2 separate regions of the Homo sapiens genome follow, and region 2 is linked to region 1. Evidence: fine-mapped expression QTL. A gene starts in region 1. The other region holds a variant in brackets. All regions are shown on one strand. Distances are from middle to middle.

Region 1 (9,868 bases):
ATGGATTCTTAGTTTCTGTTTCTGGTTGAGCCAGCAGGGTCCCTTCCTCATCCCTCTTTTCTGCTTATCACTAGAGACAGAAACTAAAACCATGACTTTAGGCTGCTGAGAGCCTAAAACAAAACGACAGCAAGAGAAGGTGGGTTGGACCAGCTTGCCTGTGACTTCAGGCACTTCATCTTTACTGGGCACTGGGTGAATGACAGTGTGGGGAGGGGTCTTCATAACACGGCAATCAGCAGCCCACTGTGCCCAGGAGACTCGCCTGTGGTCCTGGTTATCAACCACAGCCCTTTCCAGTCTCAAAAATGTCCCCGCTGGGACAGCAAGTTACATCGTCGCTACAAGTCCTGTCTCCTGGGAGATGCAGTCCAGCAGCACTACATCCTCTGAGCAGCAGGTGCCAAGTGGGATGAACTGGATAAGGACTGCATTCGGGGAAACGCCCGTGTGAAAGGAAATACACAGGAAGGAGGTGGCAACGGGTGGGAAGCCACTAGACCACGACGCGATTCTGCCCCAGTGAAGGCGAGGGGATAGCCTGGGCCTAGATCGCTGTGAGGTCTATGGAAGTTTCCACAAGCTTGCTGGGTAGTTCTCGAGGCAAACTCGGAAAGGGAGTCCCTTGTCTCCCTGGAACGGATCTTTCTTGGCATCTCTGTCACACTCATTAGGTGGGCCTGGTGTCAACCCCATTTGCAGGCCACCCCAAACTTGATCAAAGGTCCGCTTCTGGCACCCCATACCCTGTCCTACAGGAAATACAGGGACAGGCTCCCAATAACAACACCCAGCACGGTGCCATCAACACCACCACGCACACGGGGGCTCAACGGAACAGACATCTCCGCTTCTTCAATGAAGACACTGGAGGGAAATTGCTTACAAGGCGCTTAAGAGACCTATTAAGCAAACTTGATGTGTGGACCTGCGGCGGATCCCGATTCTATAAGGCCAACTGCACAAAACCACGAGACCCCCTGAGGACTGCGCCATTGGCTGGGTCCCCGATGATATGAAAGAACGGTGGTTCATTTGAGCGGGTGATGTTTTTGCGGTTTCCTTTAGAGGCACACGTGAAACATGACGGGTGAAAGGATTCAAAGTCTGGGATTTGCTTCAAAGCAACGCAGGGATGGCGTGGGGGATGGATGGGGCAGGAAGGGCCTTGAAACTGGTGCTGGAGGCTTCCCAGGGCTGCCCTGGAGCCCAGTGCGTCCTCCACCGGCCAGACTGTACAACGGTTGGATCCTGTGTCCACTGCTAGGACCCAGGCTCCACGAGCACGGGCTTGTGTGGCACACGGATGCACCCTAAGTCCTGGCACAGAGACTGCTCAACAAAGGCCTCGGTGCTTTTGTGTATGTTTGAAATTTTCCATAATAAAATGAAAAATGGGAAAATGGGAAAACAAAAATGGCAGCACTACTTACCCTCTGCAGAGTTTTGTCCGCTTCACGCCAGTGGGTGGCAGTCGTTTCCTCTGCCCTGGCCTTCCATCGTTTCCCCCCTACCCTCTTCACCCACCCAACAGCCCCCTGTGGTCCTGGCAGCTGTGGGCCTTTCCTTGAGGTCAAGGTGTGGAGTCCTGGGGAGGGCTCAGGGAGGCCACCGACCCGGGTGTGGATTCTGGGAGAAGCCTGTGGGATGTCCCTCCCTGGGTGACCACGGCAATGTGCCCCCTCCTGTCCCTTGGCCAAGGCCAGTTCCCTGAGCCCTGCAGCCCCAAGCCACAGCTGGTCCACTGACCCCAGTTGAGCCTGGTCCTCATCAGACCAGCTGACCCCTTTGACCCCCGCTACAGACTCGGCTTTGACCTTGGCTGCTGAGGAGCCCCCACCTGGACTGAGGCTGCAGCTGGCGAGAGAGGAGCCCTGAGCTCCTCTGATAAGAAGGGACCTGGCCAGCCTGACGTTTGAGACCCAGGCATCCCGGTAGCCTGGGTGTCCTGTTGCCGTGGTTATTCAGGAGCCACCCACTCTGGGACAACACCAGCTGCTCCCACCTCGCAGGGCTCCCACGGCTCTGTCCCAACCACTCCTTTCTGAAGGAAGGGGTGCCTCTGCGCCCTAAAGAAACCGGGGGAGCCCCACAACCCCTCCCCCACCAGGACACTAAAAGGCAGCTTTCGGTACAGTGAGACATCAAAGCCTCCTAGGCCCTGAGTCAAAGGTATAGCCGTGTAATATCCCAGTGCCAGCTCTCCGGCTGCGGGGAGCCTGGCGCAAAGCTTCCAAGCCTTCCTTGTTCCTTTCAAGAGCCGCTCTTAGAATTCAGGTGAGCGGAGACCTGCAGGGCCTCCCCAGTGCGGGCAAAACCCAAAGCTAGCGAGAGGGCAGCCTCCAGGCACCTCTCACTAACTCCTCCCAGAGGCCGTTGAGGTGGGTCTGGTCAAACCCATTTGCAAGTTAACCCACTTGCCCTGGGCTGCCCAGCTGCCACGTTAGTGGAGATCTGAGCGTGGTGGCCTGCGCAGGAGCCCATGCCCTCAGCCCCACAGCCGGTGCTCTCTGGTCAGACCACCTCAGCCTAGCCCCACACCCAGCACTTACCCCAGCCCTCGGGATGGGTCAGCAGCCTCCAGCCTGCAGCTTCCAAGCCAGCGAGTAGCCCTGTCTGGACAACCCACCAGCCCACCACCTCCTGGAGGATGCCCCCAGCCTCACAAGGTGTCCCAATGGCTCCGCTATCAACGGCCTGGCTGCACTCCAGATCTCACCCAGACCCACCCTACGGAGGAGGCAGCAGGGTTTGAGGAGTAGTGACCACGGAAGTCTGGCCGTCACCTGGGAAGTGTAGGTGATAGGAGCCACTGGTAAACAGAACTGATTTATTTATAAAGTTCACGCTCCCTTGAAGAGGTGTGCCCCACACAGGCTTCTCCCTAGCAGAGCAGCAGTGCCCACAAACCCACCCCAGGGTGGGCTGTCACGGGGGCCTCACGCCAGGGACCCCGCCCCTCAGGGACTGCTCGTGTCCAGATCTTGGCCAGCATGGAAAACTCCAGATAGTGGGGGCAGGGGTCCAGGTCATCTTTATTACGCCCCAGGTCAAGGGTTCTTTGTACAAAAATAGGTCTCCGTTTGCCAGCAGTGTCCCTCCAGCAGCTCAAGTTAATGTGTAGAAAATGGATTCTCTGTGCCCTTAGAAAATCCTCTCCCCTCCGGAAAAATCTCCAAGTGTTGGTGCCCCCCGCCCCACTGCAGTCGAGAAGCTGTGGGGAGGGGCGGCGTCGGAGGAAGCCGCCAGCCCTTATGGGGCCAGCTCCAAGCCCGTTTCCACCGCGGCATTGGTCAGGCTGGGCCGGACGAACGAGGCGGCGTCGGCGGTGCGGGGGGTGGTGGGTGGGTCCCCGGCTCGCTGGGGGCGGAGCGCGGGCCGGTCCACCTGGCGGGCTCCCCGGCGATGAGCGCGCCGGCCGCTCGCTCGGCTTCCGGGGCTGAGGCTGCGGGGGGAAGGTGGGGAACCAAACGCGCGTCAACGCGGGCGCGGGCCCGGGGCAGACCCCGCCCGGGCCGGCCCTGCCCGCACCTCCCCCAAGCGAAGTCGGCAGTTTCGTTTGCTCGGTTGGTTTTGGAGTCTTGAGTCCGTGGGTGCCGCGACTCGGTCTGAGACACGGCGGGGGCGGGGCGGGCGCTCGGAGCCGCGGTGAGTCAGGGCTCCGCGCCCGCCGACTCATTTCTGCCGCCCCGGCCCGGGAGCGCGATTTGCAATGCAAAGTCACCCCGCCTCCAGCACCCCAATCTGCCCCAGGATCCGCCAGCACTAGAGACCTCAACGGCCCGACGGCCGCTCCCCTCCCCTCGTCTACCCCTCCCTCGTCGGCGGCTGAGCCGCGAGGGGAAGTTTTGCAATCCCGGACAAACAAACGCCGGTCTTGCACGGGCTTGAAAAACTTTGGGGGAAATGAAGAGTGAGCGAAATCGAAGCCATCGCTCGGGCCTGGCGCTCGGCTCCGCGGGCTCCTGGGGGCGCGACCCGCCGGGCCTGCCCACCCCGTCCCTCCACCCCGGCCCCCGGCCCTCCCTCCTCCCTGCCTCCCGGCTGTTACCTCATAGGTCGAGGGCGCTCAGTAGCCCCCTAACCAGCTGGAGAAGTCGAGTAGCTCGCGCTCCGCAGGACTCAGCGCGCCTTCGCAGCCGCTGTCGTCCGACGAGTAGGCGGAACGCGGGGAGCCGGGCTCCGAGCTGCCCCCGCGGCCCGGGGACGAAGAAGCGCGGGAGGGCGAGGCGGCGACCGGGGTGGTCCCTGGCGGCCCGCGGGGCGCAGACGGCCGCACGGCCTGCGGCCTCAGCCCTCCCGCCAGCGCGTTGCGCACGGCGTCGTGCTCGGCCAGCAGGCGCTGCAGCGCGCGGATGTACTCCACGGCTGAGCGCAGCGTCTCCACCTTGCTCAGCTTCTTGCTGGCGCCGCCGTGCGGCACGTGCTGCCGCAGCGCCTGGAAGCCCAAGTTCACCAGCTTCACGCGGTTGCGCTCGCGCTCATTGCGCCGCGCTACGGCCGCTGCGCCGCCTCCGGTCTCTGCGGTGGCCGGTCGCCGCCGCCGGCTGCAGCGCAACAGTTCCGGGGACGCGGGTCTCCGCCGGGCAGCGCAGCCGACAGGGACGGGGGGCGCAGGGGGCGCGGACCTGGGCAGTGTGCCGCCGTCCATCGCGCCTGCATCCACCCGCCCGCTCCAGGTCCCGGCGCGCCGCAGGAAGGTGCAGGCAGAGGAACCGGAGGCGACGGGGAAAACTGTGGCGCCCCAAGGGGGCTTCTGGCACGGCGCCGCCAGGCAACTCCCCAGGGCACGCGTCCTAGGTCGTCTGGAGCCCGGGGATAGGAGGCCTAGTGGTGGCAGGCCGTACGCGCCAGGGAGCGTGGGACGCTCGTGTCCCGCGCGTGCGGCCGGACTCTCCCAGGTCTCCGCAGGCGCGGCGCAGGCGGCTGGTTTTTAAATGTATAGATAACCCTCCTCCGCGCCGCCGCCGTCGCCTTTCTCACGCCCTCCTTCCTTCGCCTCGCCCTCCCGCCACGCTTCGCCCTCCCCCTCGCGCGATCACATTCTGTAAGGCCCAAAGCGTGCGCATGTCCCCCTAGCCCATCCCCCGGACGCAGTCCACAGATCCCCAGTGCGCCCAACTGGCGAAATCTGCGAGTTCCCGGTGCGCCCCCTGCTCCCGGCAGGTGCTTAGTGCGCCCCCAAAGCAAGGTACGCAGGTCCTGGGTTGAGCCTTCCCGTACCCCCACCCTAACCCCGCGCGCAGCCCCGCCAGTCCCAAGAGCCGCCAGACCTTCGCACGCGCAGCGCGCGCTGTGGGAGGGAAGGCGCGGCCCTGGCGACAACACGGCTGTTCGGGAGGCGCGCAAGATCCCCGGGGGCAGCACGCGCCGCGCAGCCCACACCCACGCCCCACCCTCCTGGGGCCGAGGAGGCGGGGGCCAGGGTCTCAGCCAATCGTGGGCCACCCGTTTGGCCAATCGCGCAGGGCGCGGCTCCACGCCCGGCCCCATTGAGGAAGCGCGTACGCGTGGCGCGTGGCTCACGGGGAGCATCGCTAACAAAGCTGGGTTCCTGCTGGGCCCCGCCCTGCTCCTCGCCCCCGCGACTGGGCTGGGCGCGCTGTCCCCTAGCGCAGCTATGTCCCGAGCGCGCCCCCACCTGTGCGTTAATCTACTGGGAATGGGGGTGGACTGCGCCTTACCTGGGGCGGGGTGGGGCTTAAGGAGTGGTCGAGACTGAGGCGGGGTGGGAGGTTCAGGTTCCCGGGGCGCCTTCCCCAACCCGCCCCGCTTTCCCCGTCCCTCCACGCGCACCCTGCCTGTGGTTTCCGTGCGCCCCCGGCCTGAGGGCTCTGGGCGGCACCTTAACCCGGAGGGCCTGGAGGTCTGCACCCGACCGCCTTGTGCCAGGACGGTCAGGTCCACGCCCTCCCCCACCGTGGCTCCCTCCATCTGCAGTATCCCCCACCTCCAGCCCGTCCTGCCCTCCTGTTCTCCGTCTCGCTTCCCGTCGGTGCCTCCGGGATCTCACAGCCCTCGCACCTCTTTTGTGACCCAGGCTGTTTTTCTGCACCCCCCTCTCCCCTGAGGGCACTGAGATTGGGCCATTGGCCTGAAGGTCTCTGGGAGCAGCACCCTTCCAGGGGAGGTGGGACGTCGAGAACTTCTCCCTAAGAGATGCGGGGAAATGGTGGGGCCTGAGAGTGCAAACACTGCAGAAATGCGAAAAATGTAGTGTTAACGGAAGAGTTTAGGTCCTGCCTCACTGTCCGGGAAACGCGTGCCCTCGGGGGAGCCTTTGCCAAGCCGGTTTTTCCCGAAGGTGACCAGATGCTCCTGGGCCACTGCCTCTGAGACCTCAGGGAACGGAGATTTTTGTGGACCCAGCTGCCTGGAGCTGCTTTCCTGTTCCGGCCGGAGGAGGTGAGGCCCAAGACCCCTCCTGGGAGCCTGGGGGCAGATAGCCAGTGTTTACTGCCAGCCTCGGGGTGCCCACCTGCTCCCATTACCCTGCAGGATGCTGCTGGCTGGCCCACCTGGGCCCCCAGCACACCTGTGTCTCGAGTACGCCTGGCCCTCCTGCCTTGGGAGGGGCCGGAAGAGTAGCACCTGCCTGGGAGCTGGTGGTCTGCGGTCTCTATTTGGCAGATGAGGAAGCCGACTTGGAGAGAACCCTGGATGTGTCCACAGTCACTCCTCCGCCCAGTGGAGCGATCCAGGCAGAAATCGGGGCCCTGAGTCTGAATCCGGGTTCTGCAACCAGGGCAGATGCGGGCTTGCCTCTGCTCCCTGTCCCTGGTCTGAGAGCCCATTCTTCCCAGATGGTCACTTGGCAAATCACAGCCTGGCATGGATTGTTCTGCCCTCCTTCTGCTGCCTCCCTCCTTCCCCTTGTCAAGGCTGCAAGACCAGGATCTAGGAACGATCCTGGAGCCCTGCAAACTAGGCCTTGGAAATCCCTGCTGGATTTCCACCTCCCGGGCTGGGAGCCCCTCGGTCATCTGTTGCTGTGTAAGGAGCCACCAGGATTTTAGCGGTCTGAACAACGATGTATTATTTCTCAGGATTCTGTGACTTGATGGGTGGGCCCTCTGCTGCTCTGGGTGTGGCTGCATACACCCCGGGGGTCAACAGGGACGAGCGGTACAGCGGCTGGGTTGCTCTCTACCCGGTCTTCGTCCAAGCCCCTCCACAGCTGGTAAGATCTCCGGAGCAGGACCTGCAAGCCCTCTTCAGATCACCCCAGAACTTCCTGTCTAAAAACTGAAGCCTCTCACTGCCCAGGCATGGCTTCTTGCTACCCTGCCCTCAGGCACAGTCCTGCACCCACCTGCGTCTGCTGTGCCATGTCCAGGCCAGTCCCCCCCCACCACCAACACCTCTCTCTATCTTCATCCTCTTCCCAATCTGGTCCTCCCACCGCTGTGGAAACCCCGTCTGCCCCCAAAGCCTAGCTTAAAAATAATTCCCTAGGGACCTGTGTCTCTCCCTGCCTCGGCCCCTCCTTCATTCCTGGGTGCCTCCGGCTGTGCAGCATTTGACACTGCAGCACCCCCCTTAATTCGGAAGCATGCTGTCTCCTGGACTGGTGAGTCTCCACACTATCTGAGCCGTCTTCTCTGGAACTCTTGGCCTCTCAGTCCGTTCTGAGAATACAGCCTTGGTAAGCACGGTGCCCACATGAATGTTTCCAGCAGCAGGATTCAAAATAGCCACATGTCCATCAACAGATGAGTGGATAAACAAAACATGGTCCAGAATAATGGAAGATTACTCAGCCCTAAAAAGAGACGAAGCTGGTGAACCTCGAGAACACGAGGCCGCGTGAACGAAGCCAGACACCGAGGACCACGTAGCGTGAGACTCTCAGTCTATGAAATGTGCGGAGTCGATAAATTCACAGAGACAGAAAGGAGATTCACGGTTGCCAGGGGCTGGGGAGTGACAACAGAGGGATGGGGGTGACTGTGAAAGGGTACGTGGTTTCTTTCCCAGAGGATAAGAACGTTCTAACATGGCCTGTCCTGTTGGCTTCACAGCTCTGTACAACACACAAAAAAACCATTGAAATGTACACTTTGTGGAATGTGAACTGTATCTTGATAAAGCAGTTAGAAGACCTTCGAACATAAGCATGCGGCCTCATGGGGCCTTTGCCTGGGCACCCTGGCACCTCTCCCAGGCTCTACCTATCTCCGACTTCATTCCTGAGCTCTTGAACAGGGGTAAGGCAAACTTTTTCTGCAAAGGAACACGTGGTAAGTATTTTCGGCCTTGACGGTCACATGTCTCTGCCACGAGTCGTCTGCCTTGGGGCGCAAATGCAGGCTTGGGCAGGGAAGAAATAACAAAACTTGCTTCCTGGTCACTGAAACATGAAGTCCAGGTCACACTCACTGTTACAAAATACTCCGAATTTTCAGACTGTGGTTCAATACACATGACATAAAATGGACCTTCTTAACCATTTGTAAGTGCACGGTTCCGTGGAATTCAGTATATTCATGTGGCTGTGCAATCATCACCACCATCCATCTCCAAAAGTTTCTCATTTTCCCAAACCGAAAGTCTGTCCCCATTAAACAGCAGCTTCCCATGACCCTTCCCCCAGCCCCTGGCACCCACCATCCACTCTGTGTCTGTAGATTTGACTGCTCTGGAGACCTCCTGTAAGTGGAATCCTACAGCATCTGTCTTTTTGTGGACCGGCTTCTTACACTGATGCTGATGCCCTCGAGCTTCATCCATGTCGTAGCCTGCATAAGGATTTCCTCTCTTTTTATGGGTGAATAATATTCCACTGTATGGGTAGACCACGGTGTTGATCCGTTCCTCCGTCAGTGGATGCTGGGGTGGTTTCCACCCTTGGGCTACCGTCAGTGACGCTACTGTGGACATGGGGGTACAAATATCTCTTTGAGATCCTGCTTTCAGTTCTTTTGGGGATAGACGGAGAAGCGGAGTTGCCAGGTCATACGGCAAACCTCTGTTTAACCTTTTGAGGGACCACCATGTTGTTTTCCGCAGTGGCTGCCCACAGTACATTCCTGCTGCGCACGAGGTTCTGATGTCTCCACATCCCCGCCCACACTTGGTGCTTTCTGGGTTTGTTTCGTTTCGTTTTGTTTTTGTTTGTTTTTGAGACGGAGTCTCGCTCTGTCTCCCAGGCTGGAGTGCAGTGGCGCAATCTTGGCTCACTGCGACTTCTGCCTCCCGAGTTCCAGCCATTCTCTAGTTTCAGCCTCCCGAGTAGCTGAGACTACAGATACGTGCCACCATGCCCGGCCAAATTTTTATTTTTTGTAGAGATAGAGTCTGACTATGTTGCCCAGCCTGGCTGAGGTGATAATAGTTTTTTGATGATAGCTAATGGGTATGGATTTTAATTTTTTAACCACTTAAGAATTTAAAGAAAATTCCTAGCTTTTGGGCAATACAAAAGCAGGCCAGGGGCTGGATCTGGCCCATGGGCCTCGGTCTGCTGACAGCTGCTCCAGAGGACTGGTATGTCCACGTGACACCTGGCCCGACCCCCATCCTCCTGCAGCTCCTCAAACTCAACTTGTTGCAGGTTGAACTCGGCCTCCTTTCCTCTAAGGAAAGATCCCCTCCGCAGCAGAGAACACCAGGTCGGCAGTGTGGGCACTGCCCTTCCTCTCCCCTGCCCTCTGCTGTACGTCAGCCCAGCCGCTTCTCCAGCCAGGTCCCCATCTTGCCTTGGACACTGCCCCTGCCTCTGCCCTGGTCTCCTGGGTTCTCAGTTTGCTGCTTCTGTCTGTGCACCGCCTGGAAGTGGGGGGGCCTTACCCAGCATCCAGCCCAGCTAGATCATGTCCGGGCCCTCGGGGTTCAGGCCCAGCACCCTCACGTGCCATCACTCACTGCC
Region 2 (9,868 bases), 53 kb before region 1:
GCATGGAGCACACAGCCCCAGGGGCAACAGGCAAACCCCAGGAGACCCCCACCTGCAGCCTGGAGAGGGGTGCAGGCAGGGCATGCAGCAGGGGCCAGCCCCATCCCAACCTCCTCCAGCCCCTCCGGCCAACTGGCCTGCAGGCTATGCCGGGTGCCCTCATTGGCCTCTGGGCTTTTTCTGTTTTGTAACTGGTAGCCTTTTTTTTTTTTTTTTTTTTTTTTTTAAAGAACACACTTTAAGGTTTATAGAAAATGGAGCAGAAAGTACAGAAAGTTCCCTGATGCTCTACCCCCTGCCCAGCCCTCCCCCATGCCTGCAGTCTCCCCGTTACTGGCCTCTTGCATCGCTGTGGCCAGGAACCCATTGGACATTTTTTAAAGTCGCATACTTTTTATTGGGGCAAAAAACACATCACATCAATGTACTGTCCTAAATGTACACTGTTTTTCAATGCACAGTTCAGGGGCATTAGGGACACTCACACTGGTGTGCAGCCCTCACTGCCATCCATCTCCGGAACCCTTTCATCTTCCCGAGATGAGACTCTGTCCCCATTCAAAGCAAACTCCCCACCCCTCCCCCAGCCCCTGACACCCACTGTTCTACTTCCCGTCTCTGCGGATTTGATGACTGTAGGAGCCTCATGTGAGTGGCAGCACACAGCGTCCGTCCTTCCGTGTTTGGCTTTTCCCGCTGAGCCCCTGCCTCAGGTCCACCCCGTGACAGCGTGGGTCCGGATCCCCCACCGTATGAGAAGATCGCACTTTGCTTATCCACGCTGATGCTTTTTAAAAAACATTTCTGTTTATGTAATTGACAAATAACAATGCATATATTTATCCTGCACTACACGTTGTTTTGAAATACATCAATACTTAATTATTATGCAAAGGCCATAGTTTACATGAGGCTTGGAGCTCGGTGTTATAAGTTCTATGGGTTTGGACTAATACTACCCTGTATCCACTGTTACAGCACCCCATAGAGGGGTTCCACGGCCCCGAAATCCTCCATGCTCCACCTGTTTGTTCCTCCTGCCTCCCTAACCCCTGGCAGCCGCTGACGTTTGTCTTCATGGTTTTGCTGTTTCCAGAATGTCCTAAGGGTAGAACCCTACAGGATCCTACAATCCTTTGCAGCCTGGCCTCTTCCACATGTCGAGTTAGCGGTTTCTCCCTGTCTTTTTGTGGCCTGTAACTCATTTCTTCCACGGGCTTCTAGACAGGCTCAGTTCTCTCCCATCTTAAATACTCATCCCTTGAGTCCACAGACTGCCACACAGCTCGTGCCAACCTCTTTACTTCACATTAAATGTCTGGAAAGAGAGAAGGCCTGTCCACTCCCTTTCCCTGTCACCTCATGCCACCTCTCTTCTAACCACAGTCCAGGTCAGTCAGCTCCCGCACTGCCAAGGGGCCCAGTGCTTTGGCCTCCAGCCCTGGAGACCTCCTCCTGCCTTCCCAGCCCCTCATCTGTTTCTTCCCCGCTCTGCTGCTCCTCCCCAGGTCCTTGCGGGACGGCCTCTTCCACTGGGTCCGGAGCTGCTCCAGACGGCCTCCTCTCATCTTCCTGCCACAGTTGCCGGCTACACGCAGGCCACAGTCCGTCTCCCGCTAGGCCGCCTCCCTCTCCCCTGTGCTCCAACCCAGAAGCCAGCTGCCCTCTGTCACTCTCAGACGACAGACGGCAGCACGGGTCCAGCTGCCCCAGGCCCGAGCCCCGGGGCTCCTCACCGCCTGGGCCTCCTCGCCAGGCCGGACCTTGATGCTGGGTACTACTGCCCTGCCACCTGCCCTGCCACCTGCCCCGCTGGCAGCTGCTCCTTCCTGCCCCCACATTCTGTCCTTCAGACACGCCATCGGGAGGGCAGTGACATCTCCGTGGTCTCCCTTTACCCTCCTGCTCTGCCACTCTGCCTCTGCTCATCCTCCTCTGGGGAGTCAGCCTGACCTCTGCAAACATGGGCATCAGTGGGCACGTCTCCGTGCTTAGAGGCCCCCAGGGCTATCCGTCGGCCTTTGGTAAAGTCACAGGCAGAACCCACACAGAGCCTTTGTGCTAGGACTAGGCCGGCCCACCTGCCTCCCCAGGCTTTGGGTGGTGCCCACCCACCCCAGCCTCTGCAGGTCCATGCCTGACTAGCCGCAGGGCCTTTGCACACCTGCATTTTGCCCAAATTAACTCTACTGGACCCTCTCCTGTGAGGAAGGCTCCGCAGCCTCCCCAGCCAGGCCACACACCCCAGTCCTCGTTCAGGGGTACACATTTGTCCCCTTCATACACAAGCCAGGCTCCACTCTGGGCACTGGGTCACAGCCAGGAGCAAAACAGACCCAGTCCTAGAACCCGCAAAGCATCCACCCTGGGGGAAAGGAAGCAGAGATCAGAGGTGTCACTGAGCACACAGAAGCTCGAGGTGCTAAATTCCATGGAATGGAAGCCAGGAGTAGCCAGAGGGAGCACGGGTGCTGGGGGGTAGGTGAGGGTGACTGAGACAGCCACTGGGGGGTACGTGAGGGAGGACCGGGACGGGCGCTGAGGGGTAGGTGACGGGGGACCGGGACGGGTGCTGGAGGGTACATGAGGGAGGACTGGGACAGGCGCTGCGGGGGTAGGTGAGAGGGGACCCGGAAGGCCGCTGGGGAGTAGGTGAAGGGGACTGGGACGGGTGCTGGGGGGGTAGGTGAGGGGGGACCGGGACGGGCGCTGGGGGATAGGGGAAGGGGGACCAGGACGGCCACTGTGGGGTAGGTGAGGGGGGACCGGGAGCAAGTCCCAGACAAGTGAGTTTTCAGAAGCCCGCGAGGCCCTCAAGTGGACAGGCCAAGTGTGTGACCAGGGCTTGGGGAGACGTGAGGGTGAGGTAGCTGTCTGCAGAGGGTGCAGGAGAGCAGCCACCCAGGAGGCCCACCTGGGGCCCTCAGTGTCAGAGGCCGCGGAGCCTGGCTTCTGCTTGCCCCCACTGCCCCGGGCCTTCTCCTGCCCTGACCCACAAGCCCTGTGGGGGTCCCTGCCCGGCCCAGATCCCCCCACTATATCCCAGTGTGTCCAGTAGGTGCTCAGTCAGTGCCAGCAGACTGGATGGATGCAGCTGGACCAAGAGGCACTCCGGACAGACCCCCAGAGGAGCTGAGGATGGGGCCTCCCTGCGGGATGCACTGGGCGCACCGGATGCTCAGGGTGGTCTCACCATCGTGCCCCCTTCACAGAGAGGACCCTGAGCCTGGGATGCGCAGGTCCTCACCTGAGGAAAGTAGGCACCAGCCAGGTGTAACCTGGGCCAGATGGGCAGCCCCGAGGGCCGCGCCCCACCTCTCAGGCCCCGCTCACAGCCAGGCCCCAGGGCTGCTCCCAGGCCCCTGGGAGAGCAGGGTGCCGTGGGCGGTCAGCAATGGGTGCAGGGTCTCCTGAGGTCAGGAGGGAGCTCAGAGCTGCTTCTTCCCTTCTCCTTTCTCAGCTGCCTATCACCCCACCCTCTAAACAGCAGGGAGCCCGGCATAGACACACTTGTGGCTACCCCACCCTCACACCCTCAGAAATCCTCAGGGAGACAGGTCGTACACCGCCCATCCTTGCAATGGGCTCCCTGCCCCCTTTCTCCTGGAGGGCACCAGGCACACACAGGTACACACACAAACACGCAAGGCACACACACAGACACGCACAGACATGCACAGCCACACACAGATAAACACAAACACACACAGCTATGCACAGCACACACAGCCACACAGCCACAAAGACACACACAGACACACAGCCACAAAGACACACACGGACACGCACAGACACACAGCCACACAGACACACACAGACACACAGACACACAGAGACTTGCACAGCCACACACAGATAAACACAAATATACACAGCCATGCACAGCACACACAGCCACACATGGGCACACAAAGGTACACACAGACACACACAGCCACACATGGGCACACATAGCCATACCCAGATAAACACAAATACACACAGCCACACACAGTACACATAGCCACACAGACATGAACAGACAAAACACAGACACACAGAGCCACACACAGATAAACACAAATACACACCATCATGCACAAACAACAGGGACGCACAGCCACACACGGACACACACAGGTATGCTCAGACACATGCAGGTGCACAGAGACGTATGGGCACACACAGACACACAAAACAGGGGCACACACAGGCACGCAGAGACGTGCCCATCCTCTCACAGCCACACGTACCCACAGCCACAGCCACACCCATGGGCACCCAGCAACACCCGCCCTCCCAGCACAGCTGCCTGCCCACAGGGACACCACTACCAA[C/T]GCCCAGCACCGACACCCTGGCACCAACGCCCAAAAAACGTCCTCAGCGGTGCCCACCCAGGCCGGCAGGCTCAGACAGACACCGCTGCTGCAGCGAGTGTGCCTGGAGTCCCACCTGCTGGGACAAGGAGACCTACAGGTGTGGATGCTGCCCGCTGCCTGCTGTAGGGGGCCAGGACCTCTGAGCCTGGCTGAGCTGGGCACCCCCGTCCCATGCCCAGGGGGTGCTGCAGGACTGTGGCCAGGCCAAGCCTTCCCAAGGCACCTCTTGGGGCCAGAGCAGCTTCCCAGGACAGCCCCCATGCCTGGCAGGCTCTCTGTGGGCTCCCCCTGTTCCAACGCCCTGTGGACCCAGCCTTGGAAGCTTCACAATGCCCGGTGCGAGGAGGACACGTGGTAATGAGAAAGGTGCCTGGAGCTGTCCAGCCTGCAGCATGCTGCCAGCGCCTCACTGGGTCCTCATGCCCTGTGCCCACTGGGTCCCTATACCAGCCTCTGCTCCGCCTGGCCCTTACACCCTCGGCTCCACCTGACTCCTACACTGGCTCTGCAACCATTCCCAGCCACAGAGGTTGGCTGCAAGTACTCACAGCTGCCCCTCCTCAGTGACTCGTTCTCAGGCAAACAGGAGGCTATGCCCCAGCCCAGGGGCAGCCCACGCTAGGAGTGACCACCCAGGAATATGAAACCCAGTCCCCTTACCTCAAAGCCCAGCCTACTATAGTACAATTTATGCCCCAGAGCTCCCTGAGGCTGTCTGCTGCCGAGACCCCCTCTTGCTTGCCTGTGTTCTCAGCCTCTTCTCTTCCTGGGAGGGCACCCCTCCCCCAACAAATCCCATGCATGAGAAACCCCACTGCAGATTCTTCTTCAGGGGAACAGGCCTGAGACAGTTGGTGCCAGGCATGGCACTGGGAAGCTGAGCCCAGGTGTGGGCTCTGTGATCAGCTCTCTCACTGACCAGGGCAAGGAGGAGCCCCTCATGGGGGTGAGCAGGGGAGGAGTGGATAGAGCCCCTGGCAGGCTAGAGCAGAACACTGTGGGATCACAGACCACCTGGTGCCATGTCCCCAGCACTTGAGAACTATGGGGAAACCTTAAGCAAAGAGCTGTGGAACGGGCAGCTTTTGCTGAGAGCCATGAAGGTCCTGAAGGAAGAAAACCCCAAGTTCAGATCTATAAATTCACAATCCAAGATCCAGTGTGAGAGTCCTAACGAGGTCATGGGTGTGGGCTTTTGTCTTACTCTGTTTGTGTTGCTATAAAGGAATACCTGAGACTGGGTAATTGATAAAGAAATGAGATTTATTTGGCTCATGGTTCTGCAGGCTGTACAGGAAGCATGGCACCTGCATCTGCTGCTGGGGGGGGCCTCAGCCTGCATCCACTCATGGCGGGAGGGTGAGAGCCGGTGTGCAGAGACCACATGGTGAGAGAGGAACCAAGAGAGAGGGAAGGTGCTGGGCTCTTCTTAACAATCAGTGCTCATGGGAACTCAAAGTAAGAACTTAGTTCTCACCCTCCTCCAGGGAGGGCATTAATCCACTCATGAGGAATCCATCCTCATGACCCCAACGGCTCACATCAGGCCCCCACCTCCAACACTGGGCATCAAATTTCAACATGAGGTTGGGGGACAAACATCCAAACTATAGCATTCCTCCCCAGTCCCCCCAAATTTATGTCCTTCTCACATGCAAAATACAATCATCCCATCTCAGGAGTCCCCTAAAGTTTTAGCTTCTTCCTGCATCCATTTAAAAGTCCAAAGTGCAAAGTCTCATCTAAGACTCAAGGCAAGTTTCTTTCAGGTATGAGCCTGTAAAATCAAAATCAAGTCATTTACTTCCAAGGTACAATGGTGGGACAGACATTGGGTAAACATTCCCATTCCAAAAGGAAGAAATTGACCAAAAGAAAGGCAGGACAGGTCCCACACAAGCTTGAAACCCAGCAGAACAGACATTAAATCTTAAAGCTCCCAAATCTCTTTTGACTCCATGTCCCACATCCCACGCTGGAAGGAAGGGTGGGCTCCCAGGACTCTGGACAGCCCTGCCCCCATGGCTTTGCTGAGCCCAGCCCACGTGGCTACTCTCACAGGTTGGAGTCCAATGCCTGGGGCTTTTCCAGGCTGCGATTGCACACTGCTGGTGTCTCTGTAATTCTGGGGTCCCCCTGGCAGCCCCATTCCCACAGCTCCAGTAGAAGAATATCTCCGAAGGGCTCTATCCCTGCAGCAGGGTTCTGCCTGGGCACCCAGGCTTTCCAATACACCCTTTGAAATCTAAATGGAAGTGGCCAAACCTCCAGCACTTTTGCATTCTGGATTCCTGCAGACTTAACAATACATGGAAGCCAGCAAGTCCCATGCCTCGTGCTCTGCAGGGCAGCTGTCCAAGCGGTATCTGAGGCCATTGGGACCATGGCTGGATCTGGGGTGGCTGGGATGTGGGAAGCAGCATCCCAAGGTGGTCCACAGCAGTGGCACCCTGGACCTGACCCTCCAAGCCACTCTGTTCTGCTAGGCCTCTGGGCCTGTGATGGGCAGGGTGGCCTCAAAGTCCTTCAAAATACCTTCAGGGCCCTTTCCCCATTGTTTTGACTGTTAGCATTATACCCTCTTTCAGTCATGCCAACCCCTCTAGCAACCGGTGTCACAAAGGACCTTGAATTCCTCTCCTGAAAACATTCTTTGCTTCTCTACCACAGGCCAGGCTGAAAATTGTCTAAATTTGTATGCTCTACTTCCCTTTTTATTAGAAATTCTACCTTTAGATCATTCCTTTGCTGTTGTAGTGATTGTAAGTTGTTAAAAGTAGCCATGGTACTTCTGGAACACTCTGCTGCTTAGAAATTTCTTCCACTAAACATTCTGGGTCATCACTCTTAAGGTTAGCCTTCTACAAAGCCTTAAAGCACGGACACAATGCAGTTGCAACCTTTGCTAGGGGTTAACAAGGGTGATCTTCGCTCCAGTCCCCAGTAAGTTCCTCATTTCTATCAGAGACCTCATCAGCATGGCCTCTATTGCCTGCATGTCTATCAGCATTTTAGTCACAACCACTTAACTAGTCTCCAAGAAGTTTAAAACTTTCCCTCATCTTCTTGTCTTCTTCTGAGCCCTCCAAACTCATTCAACCTCTGCCCATTACTCAGTTCCAAAGCCACTTCCACATTTTCAGGTATCTTTATAGCAACACCCCACTCTCAGTACCAATTTTCTCAGTCCACTTGTGTTACTATAAAAGCACACCTGAGACTGGGTAATTTATAAAGAAAAGAGGTTTATTTGGTTCATGGTTCTGCAGGCTGTACAGGAAGCACGGGGCCTGCATCTGCTGCTGGTGAGGGCCTCAGGCTGCTTCCACTCATGGTGGAGGTGAGGGGGAGCCAGTGTGTGCAGAGACCGTATGGCAAGAGAGCAAGCCAGAGAGATGGGAGGGAGGTGCTAGCCTCTTTTTAACAACCTGCTCTTGAGGGAACTAATAAAGTGAGACCTCATTTGCCCCGCTCTACCAGGGAGGGCATTAACCTGTTCATGAGGGATCTACTCCCATGACCCAAACACCTCCCATTAGGCCTCCACTTTCAACATTGGATCAAATTTCCACATGAGGTTTGGAGTGGACAAACATCCAAATTCTAGCAGCTTTAATCCAACCTGACTGATATACTTGTGAGAAGAGGAGATTAGAACCCAGACACACACAGGGGGAGGACCCTGTGAGGACACAGCTAGAAGGCAGCCATCTGCCAGCCAAGGGGAGAAGCCTCAGGAGGAACCAGCCCTGTGACACCTTGATCTTGGATTCCAGCCTTCAGGACTGAGGAGGATAAACTTCTGGTTATTAAGTCCCCCAGTCTATGGTACTTAGTTATGGCAGCCACAGAAAGTGAATTCGGGCAGCAAAGAGGAAATGGCACCAGTTGGCCTTACCCACAGGGGTCTTTGAGAAGGATAATAGAGCATGATGCTCCTAGAGGGGACAGGTGGGCAACCAACCAGGTGACCCTTTAATATAGAAACAAGGGATCAAGACTGGATGCCTGAGGCTGAGATCATTCTCTCAAATGCAATCCTGACCCCTTGACCATTTCCAGACCTCAGCCAGTTCTCAGACCCAGACTCACCAATGGAAAGAGAAGCTGGGTCCCCATGAGGCAGGACCCTGAAACAGCATACCAAATGCAACCTGTGGTATGTCCTCAGTCCTTTCCCCAAGGGACCTACAGCCACTGAATCAGATCATCACAGCTGATAACTGAGGGACACAACTATCTTTGCAGGGCTGTTGCATATGGAGTCTGCATAACACTCATAACACTGGTACTAGGGGACCCAAGTGCCATCATGGGCCCCCCATTAAAGAAGCAGCATAGGGGAGTTAGATAATAAGTGGAAATCTGGCCCAGGTCTATCTCATGGGGTGGGCTATGTTCATGAACCCATTTGAAGATTACGCCCCCAGTTCCTACACAAATAATCAACATGGACCCATAAGCAGGCAGACTCCTTCATCAGCTCCTTGACCTTTGTGGTAAGACCTATTATGGCAGGAAAGAACAAGTAGAAGTCCCTGAACCTGCCTTTACTCCAAAGCCAGAAAATAAGTCAAAACTGATGACACTCTCCAAGGCTTTTCACCCACTTCTGGCAAAGACGAAGTAACAGGAACTGGGTTTCCCCTCTCAGCTGAAATAATAAGCAAAAAGATTGAAGAAGAAAAAAAAAAAGAAACACTGGTTTTCAAGAAAGGATATTGGGCAAAGAAGGACAGTGATCCCCAAGAGAAGAAAAACAAAGTGAGCCCTACAATTGCCTTGTCTTGCTGCCCTGAGAGAGTTTTTGGACTGCAATACAGGGAGGAAAATTGAGGCAGAGCCCAATGAATCCAAGTTGAGGTAACAGAATTGGGGGTTTGGGGAGACCAAGGTGGCTAGAGTTTGCAGGGCAGAGAAGAGAGTGGTACAAAGAGTGAACCCTGGAGATCTCCAGAAGGTTCCCCCTAAAATATTCAGCAGGATACATTCATCACAGGCCTGGGAGGGAATGACCCAAGCCTGGAAGGACCAACTGAAAGGGTTCGGGGCTGCAAGACCCAGTACCTATGCAGAACTGGGAGAAGAACCAGTTCCCACCAGCCAGACTGGAAAATGTCATGATTCACAGGGCATTGGGTAGTGTACCAATAAAAGGGTCTTGCCCCAGCAGTGGGGAATAATTAGCCCTGGATGGAGTAATGTCCCAGGCCTGCCTGACAAGCCATAAAAGCAAGATATGAAAGGAACAAGTTGTTCCAAAGTATCTTAACTGCATCCCAGAACAAAGCTCAGCCGTGTTCATAGGAATGCAGACGTATCCAGTATCCAACACGGCAAAATTCACAACATCTGCAACCAATAAAAAATTGTGGGATCTGCAAGGAAGCAAGAAAATACACCCATAATGGGGAGAAAAATCAACCCATTGTAACAAACCCAGAACAGACATGAATGTTAGAATTGGCAGGCAAGGACATTAAAACAGTTATTGTAACTGCATTCCCTAT

Evidence for each region.
Region 2: its variant is fine-mapped to the expression of ASCL2 in whole blood (TOPMed, PIP above 0.99).

Annotation. Positions count from the first base shown.
Region 1 is chr11:2,265,682-2,275,549 of GRCh38, forward strand. It overlaps ASCL2 (achaete-scute family bHLH transcription factor 2), which reads right to left and starts at 4,907. Exons shown (of 2, transcript NM_005170.3): 1 at 4,052-4,907; 2 at 2,817-3,445. The coding sequence starts at 4,651. The coding sequence ends at 4,070.
Region 2 is chr11:2,213,051-2,222,918 of GRCh38, forward strand. No RefSeq gene overlaps it. Among named protein-coding and RNA genes, the nearest start is that of MIR4686, 45 kb to the left of the region's middle. RefSeq lists an enhancer at 1,655-2,215. The variant C/T (reference allele first, on the strand shown) is at 4,317.